2 linked regions of the Homo sapiens genome follow. The protein of the gene in region 2 interacts with the protein of the main gene of each other region in a pairwise test. Each region holds a gene or a part of one and is shown on either strand. Other genes may lie near its edges.

What was found. The genes of interacting proteins can lie anywhere in the genome.
Region 1: the proteins of ATP13A2 (region 2) and AAK1 interact in a two-hybrid assay, tested with the Homo sapiens proteins (one study listed by BioGRID and IntAct).

Annotation. Positions count from the first base shown.
Region 1 is NC_000002.12:69,637,140-69,640,892, forward strand, and holds part of AAK1 (AP2-associated protein kinase 1), read right to left. Parts: intron 1-3,753.
Region 2 is NC_000001.11:17,010,118-17,013,870, forward strand, and holds the start of ATP13A2 (polyamine-transporting ATPase 13A2), read right to left. Parts: upstream 1,812-3,753; 5' UTR 1,622-1,811; coding exon 1,612-1,621; intron 1-1,611. UniProt on the Homo sapiens protein: ATPase which acts as a lysosomal polyamine exporter with high affinity for spermine. Also stimulates cellular uptake of polyamines and protects against polyamine toxicity.

The DNA.
Region 1 (3,753 bases), on a different chromosome or scaffold from region 2:
TGGCCATGTTATTCTCTCTGCCTAGAATGTTCTTCTACCTTGTCCATCTAGCAATAAGTTCTCATTTTTGAAGACACACCTCAAATGTCACCTTTCTTTAGCTTTCCCTGACTACTCCCCAACCCACAAAATTGTTGCCTTGGGTCTGTTCCCCAGCTCTTTTACATGACTCCAGCGCAGCATCTGCAGCTATTTGCTCACATATCTGAAATCCTATGACTGTGAGGTCCTCAAGGCACAGCCATGTCTCATTTATCTCCGCATGATGCCTGGCACATAATGAATGCTCAGTAACATTTACTGAATAAGGGAGTGAATGAACTGACAAACCTTGATCTCCCAATTCATAATGCAGTGTTCTTTCCACCACACCAAAATATGGCTCCATAAAATAGACCGGAGGCAAGTCTCTGCTAGCTCACAGTGCTAGATGCTACTTTAATAGACAATACGTTTCTATTATTATCATTTTTTTCTCTTTCAGATGCGGATGTCACAGTTACCTCATAAGTAGGCTCAGAAGGCATGCATCCTTGAAAGGGTGCAAGATGAAGGTGGTACTAGTCCCCTTTCCGAAGCGTCAACATTCAAATATTGCAAGTTAAAATGACGGCTCTGATGCAGTAATATTTTTTGTGTGTTTTGTTAATATTTATCAAACCTTTCTTGTGTACTCTACATGGCGTTTTAGCTACCAGGGTACAAGTGTATGTCTCCCCTCATACCCTCCCACTCAAAAGTCACGTGAAACTGCTGCTCTCTCTTCATCATTATTTGTTATTAAATGAGCTTTACTTTGTTAGAAAGACTGAAAGAAAGAGTTTGACCATGGCAATTGCTTATTCTGGACTTCATTTCTGAATTCTAGATTTGGCTATATTTAGCAAAGCTACAACCGTCATCATGCCCAAAGCCAGGAAGAAGACACCATTCACAAACCACCCCCTGAAAATCTGCAGTTGCCTCTAAAAAACCAGACTTCCCAGCAGGCAAAGACATCTGAAGTGGGAGGGATCAAATTGGTGTTTGCGTCAAGAGAAGGTCTCAGGTGCTTATAACTAAATCTCTCTGCCTGGCACTCAAGATTCTCCATAAAATTAGTCCTTCCTTTTCTCTCCAATGTACCTTCTGCTCTGGTCAAACACCTTCAATATCTCCCCTGTTCATACCTTTCGGTAACACTGGTCATTTCCCTTCCCTGCCTGCTTTTGCTTAAGCTTCTAGCCTCTTATCAAACCTTCTGGGACCACTCTTTCCCCAGACACTCGCTGCTCCCTTTCCCCACAATTGGCACGGGGCTGAGGCACAGGAGGGGAGCCGTGCATTCTTGGTACCTATTCATCAGTCTTTCAAAAGGCCCAGGGCCACTGAAGAAAGTGAGTAGCAAGCACCTCCAGGGAGCAACTTAAAGAATTTCATTCTACCACTCCGTGTCCTCTGTCCTTCTTTCCTTGATTCTGGGGAGGAAATGTGTACTGATGAAAATGGTAACACTAAACTAGTCAGTATTCTCAAAATTTATCATGCTGTTTCACCACTTTGCCTATACTATTCTCTCAGCCTGAGAGGTCCTGAGTAACCCCCATCTGGAACATCTGCTGGGCAATTTCTATTCCTGTTCAAACTTCATGTCACCTATGAACTCTCACCCCCAGGCTCTTTATCATAACATCTTTTACCATCTAAGGTATGTATGTCAAAGGCCACGCTTAAGTGCTGGACACTTATCTCAGGTGTTGAGCTCTGTTAAGAGTCAGGCCTGTGTCCCATTCATCTTAGGATCTCTGGAACCTAATACAGTGCCTGCCACAAAGAGGCACGTACGTGTATCATATTGATACCACCAACATATTATGTGCCTTTAATGGAATTTTTGGTGATTTCACACACATTTTTAAGCCTTACTAGTTTGCTCTGTAGGTAGGAGAAATTATCAAAGTTTACTGATGTGGACATTTGGTACTTCTCATCAGCCTTGGACCTGGATTCCTTGAATATAAATTAGAAAGCTGTTCTGAGGAGCCATCTAGTCCACCTTATAGTTCCAGAATGTTGTCTTCAACACAGTAATAAATAAACATTTATTGTTTAAAGCTTAGATATAAGTCCTCGTATAGCTAAGGAAGTATGATAAAAGCACAGCTTCTCAATCCTTCTTTGAACATTGCTCCAATTTTCCCATTGAGCTCATTCTGGAAGCTTAAACCAAATCTTCCCTTGATATCATATGCCCATTAACTTAGACATGATTTAGCTTCTCATCATGGCATCTTTGCTGAGAAAGCTAGAAAGAAAATATTCTCCCTGGCACCCAGCCTAGAAATAGCCATATTCCTCTAAACTCATAACTTAAAGCCTTCACTTCCCCCAAACAGCCCCTGCTGGACTAGTTAGTGAAACCAGGCCAGGAAGGCTGATGCTACCAGGGGAGGTATGGCAGTGCGACATCTTTTTGTCTTACCCAGCACCTGCTCCTTGGGGTTCTTGCAATTCCTTATGAAAAAGCACAGACCAATACCCACGCTAGAGAAAAAGAGATCATCAGCGGAATGTGGTGGTAATCTGGTCTGTGTTTTGAAGCCTCTCACACCACTCCTCCCTAAACTGCCTAGCCACCGCTCTGGGCACACAGGGTACAACTCCTGTGGTCCTTAAACAACTCTGGCTAGAACTGTAGATAAGTCAGCACTCGGGGACTCACAGAGAAGAGAGTCCAGGGAAGGAGCATGGCTACCCAAAACGTCTGTTAAGCCTTTAAGGAGCTGGTGAGGACTCTGCAAAGAACATCTGGCTCTGTCCCCTAACAATGGGGGAAAGGAATTGCTTCAGATTGCTGCAGCTCAACTAGCTTTCACATTGCTCCCACTCCCCTTTAACACACACACACACACACACACACACACACACACACACACTCTCTCTCTCTCTCTCTCTCTCTCTCCCCCCCCACATATATACATATGATGTATAACGTTGCTGGTAAGTAATGGCTACCATTTATTGAACACCTGAAAATGTTAATTATATATATTGCCTCATTTAATCTTCATGACCAGCCCATTAAGCAGTGGTTCTCAAACTTGACCTTGCGTCAGAATCTCTCCAGGAACTTATTAAGCCCCACACCCACAGCCTACAGAGTGAGGCCTGAGAATCTCCATTTCCAACAAGCTCGCAGGTGATAAGTATGCCCCACTTTGAGAACCACTGCCACAGGGAAACAGAGATTCAAGAGTGGTTTGGAATGTCTTGCCTACAGTTCCACAGCTAGTAAAGAACAGATCCAGAATTTGAACCTAGATCTGTCTGACTCTACAGACAGTGCTGGTAACCATGCTACTGTATGTGTGAATGTATGCCTCATCTTCCCAAATTCATTGGCAGATCCTTAAAGGCAGATGTCAATCACACTATAGACCTCCCTCATCCATCTCAGAACTTCATAGGGTCTTTGGACTTGGTAGGTGCTACATAAATACTTTGTATACTGGCTCCTACATATCTACATACTTCTAAGAGCCACAAATTCAAACTCAACTTAAGCCAAAGAACACAAAAAGGGCGCATAGCCAGACCCAGTTTTACGTGACATTCTCTCTCGCTACTCTGTCTTTGCCCATGGTGCCACCACACTAACTCCTACTCACTCTTCAGTCACTTCCTTCAGAAATCCTGGGCTCCCTAAAACTGGGGGCCACTGCACCCTAAGTTTATCTCTATGATGGCATTTACCAATCCACTATAACTGGCTAT
Region 2 (3,753 bases):
CCCAGGCTGGAGTGCAGTGGAGAGATCTCAGCTCACTGCACCCTCCACCTCCCAGGTTCAAGCAATTCTCCTGCCTCAGTTCCTGAAGTAGCTGAGACTACAGGCACATGCCACCACACTCAGCTAATTTTTGTATTTTTAGTAGAGACGGGGTTTCCCCATGTTGGCCAGACTGGTCTTGAACTCCTGACCTCAAGTAATCCGCCTGCCTCAGGCTCCCAAAGTGCTGGGATTACAGGCGTGAGCCACCACGCCTGGCCTGTCATTGCTCTTCTGATGAACAGCAGCTCCCATGGAGTGCTCACCATGCCCTGCGGAAGCCCTTCAGTGTGCTAACTCAATGAAGCTTCACACACAACCCTCTGGGGTAGTGACTATTATTATCCCCATTGTACACCTGGGGAAACTGAGGAACAGCATGTGAATCCCTTGTCCAGGGTCATAGAGCTTGAAAGGGGAGAAGCTGGAAATGAGTGTGTCTGAATGGGCACATTCTTTCCCACAGCCATTCCATGAAAAGTACAGATTAGGATTCCCATTTAAAACGAGGCCCAGAGGAGTAGATTGACAAGCACAAAGTCACACAGCTATGAGGGGCCAAGACTGGACTTGAACCTCGTCTGAGGTCACAGCTCGGGGCAGTGTCACCAGCACTGTGGATCAGAGGGGCTAGAGCCATTTGGGACCTCTTATTTCCTGCGGAAGCCTTGGCTTCCTGCTGGTGACCTGGCAGCGGCCCAGGGCGGCTGCCTCCTCCCTGGCTGTGGTTCCCGGCGGCGGGGAGCTCCTGTCTTCTGCCAGGCTGAGGCGGGAGTGTGTGTGAACCATCTTCCCATCTTTGGATCTGGATTCTAGGGGCTGTCTTTCCTCATTCCTTCCCCTCCCTCGCCGGGGGGTGCACTCTAGGCTGTGGGGCTGGGGGCTGAGTGACAGACACTGAGATGAGACCTTTCTGGATAGGGGAGGAGGACTGGCCCCATTCCCGGCAGGTGGGATTTAAATTAGACCCTGGAGGAGTGGGCGTAGGACATCTGGCCAGGGATGGGTTGCATGGAGGGTGTGGCCCTTGGCCCTGGGTGTGACGGGTTTTCTCTGGGGTCTGAGGCAGGAGGTCAGGAGTGGCGCTGTGGCCCAGGACATCTACCCAGGAAATGGAGTCCCGACTCCCCCAACGCCATTCATTCATTCATTCAGCCCAGAGGGGTTGCCCAGAGGCCCGAGGATGCAGCCGTCTCCCCCACCTGGACATCCGTCACTCGGGGTGGGATCCGATTAAGTGGGCGTGGGGTGGCCTCCCCGTCCCCGCACGGCCCCAGGACCCTCTTGCACAAGCGCCCGGCTTCCAATCCCGCGGCTGAGGGGTGCAGGGGAGGGGAGGGACCGGCTGCGAGCGGCGGCGCCATCCCCAGCCCCGGCGTCTCTGGGAAGAAACCGGGGCCGAGTCCCCGTCAAAAGGGAGGGGACGGGCCAGGATCCCCAACCAGGTCCCGCTTCCTGGGCTCGCGACCCCGCGGTGGGGGGCGTCGCCTCCCCTCTCCCTCCAAGGGGTGACGACAACTGGCGGGCCGGGGACCGCGCCGGGCTCGGGGCCGACCCGGACTCCGCACTCACCTGCGCTCATGCCGGCTCCTCGCGCTCATCGCCGGCCCCGGCGCTGCGGCCCTCGGCCTGGGCCCCGGCGTGCGCAAGGCCCTGGGCGGGGGCGCGGTCCGGACGGCCCGGGGCGAGGGGCGCTGGGCTAGCGCGGGGCTGGAGCAGGGCTGACGCGGGCGGGGCACCTGGGCCACCAGGCTCGGCGCGGCTCCGACACTGCCGCAGTCCCTCCGTGCGCGCCGCAAGCCCCGCCCGGCCCTCTGCGGCCCTCGCAGCGCCCGCGCCGGGGCTGCCGGGACTTGTAGTCCCCGCCTGCTCCTCCGCACACACCGGGGGCGGGGCGACCGGAGACACACACCTCACGGAGGTAGCCCCCGCCAGCACGTCCCAGTGGTTAGGGACTGTGCGTGCTGGTCCAGCTCTCCATGTCTTCCAGGCCGCGCGACCGTGAGCAAGTCACTGATCCTCTCTGGCCCTCTTTTCCCAACCTGTAGGATAGCAATGCCTGCTTCACAGAGAACTGCTGCGAGGATCACACAAGAAAATGCTTGTCAACTGGGCGTGGTGGCGCATGCCTGTAATCCCAGCTACTCGGAGACTAAGCCAGGAGAATCGCTTGAACCCAGGAGGCGGAGGTTGCTGTGAGCCGGGATCATGCCATTGCACTCCAGCATGGGCAAAAAGAGCGAAACTCTGTCTCAAAAAAAAAAAAAAAAGAAAATGCGTATCAAGCACTTGAGACAGTGCCTGGCGCTGCTTGATGAATGCAAAGAAGGAAGACACACCTGCCCAGAGATTCACAGGGTCAGATGTGGGCCCACAGAGACCCAGGGAGAGTCTGCCATGATGCACTGGAGGCCTTGAAATGCCAGAGAAAGAGAAGCCTCACAGCGTGACCTGCAGACACACCTGCACTGGGGGGATTCATGAAGACCCCTGAAAGGCACCAGAGATGTCTTACCTGCGTGCAGCATTTATCCTGCTACCCCATAGTGACCGGCACAGGCATAGTGTTCCCTGTCTCCAGGACCTCTGGACAGAGGAGCTCCAAAGGGGAGAGTGGATCTGTGAGATCCTAGGGCAAACAAGGGAAGGTTCACGTTAGGGCCAAGGATAGACGTGGGCAGGATCACTGGTCATTTGTCCAGTATGAATTTATGGAGTGCCAGCACCACTGTGGGAGCCAGGAACGTGAGAGTGAACAAAACAGAGATGCCCCTGTCCCTGCGGAGACTGCTGTCTACTGGGAAGTAGCCCTAGTCAAGGAAAGGAAAACTCCAACGATCCCTATTGTGGAAGGGGCTGGAAGGAGACACAGCTGTGATGGTGGTGAGGGTGTGGGTAGGGGATAGACCCCAGGAGGGAAAGCAGCACCTGATTCATAGCAAGATCCCAGTGAACATTTGGTACAGGAACACACGTTGGCAGGACTTGCTGGTGGATAGGATGTGGGGGTGCAGGAATGTGTGGAATTCAAGATGCTCCCCAGGGTTTTGGCCTGAGCAGCTGGGTGCCAGTGGAGCCATTTACTCAGCTGGGGCAGGCTGCCCGAGCCAACCAGTTGCGGGTCATTCCTGTTGACCACCTGGGCCATGGGACTGGCTTCCTTGGGTCAGGTGACAAGAGTTCTTTCATCTTCCGGTGACACTTCCAGGGGAGGCAGGCTGCTTAACTTTTCAGAACTCCCATGTCCTCCCCCAGGGCTTAGCTCAATTTCTGGCAGGAACCCAGCCTCCAGGGCAGCAGGAAGGCTGGGTTTGGAAATGGCTAGCCCAGGTGGCCTTGGCAAGAGGCAGTATGGTACAGTGGCAAGGGGCTGGGTTCTGGCATCAGAAAGACATGGATGCATGAGTTGCTTTCTAGCTGTGTGAGCTTTAAAATGTCACTTTCCTTCTCTAAGGCTCTCCTTCCCCTCACCTACAAAATGGAAGGCATGGAGAGGATGAAATGAGATGGCAGGAACTTGGTAGAAGCCAGCTGCTTGCTTTAGATCCTGGCACTGGATTAGCGGCTTCATAAAAGCAGAGGTACTCCAGTCTGGGTGAAAGACTGAGACTCCCTCTAAAATAAATAAATAAATAAATAAATAAATAAATAAATAAATAAAAGCAGAGGGCTTGGGGACTGCATGGGGGACTGCCTTGCAAGGGTGCCCCCTTC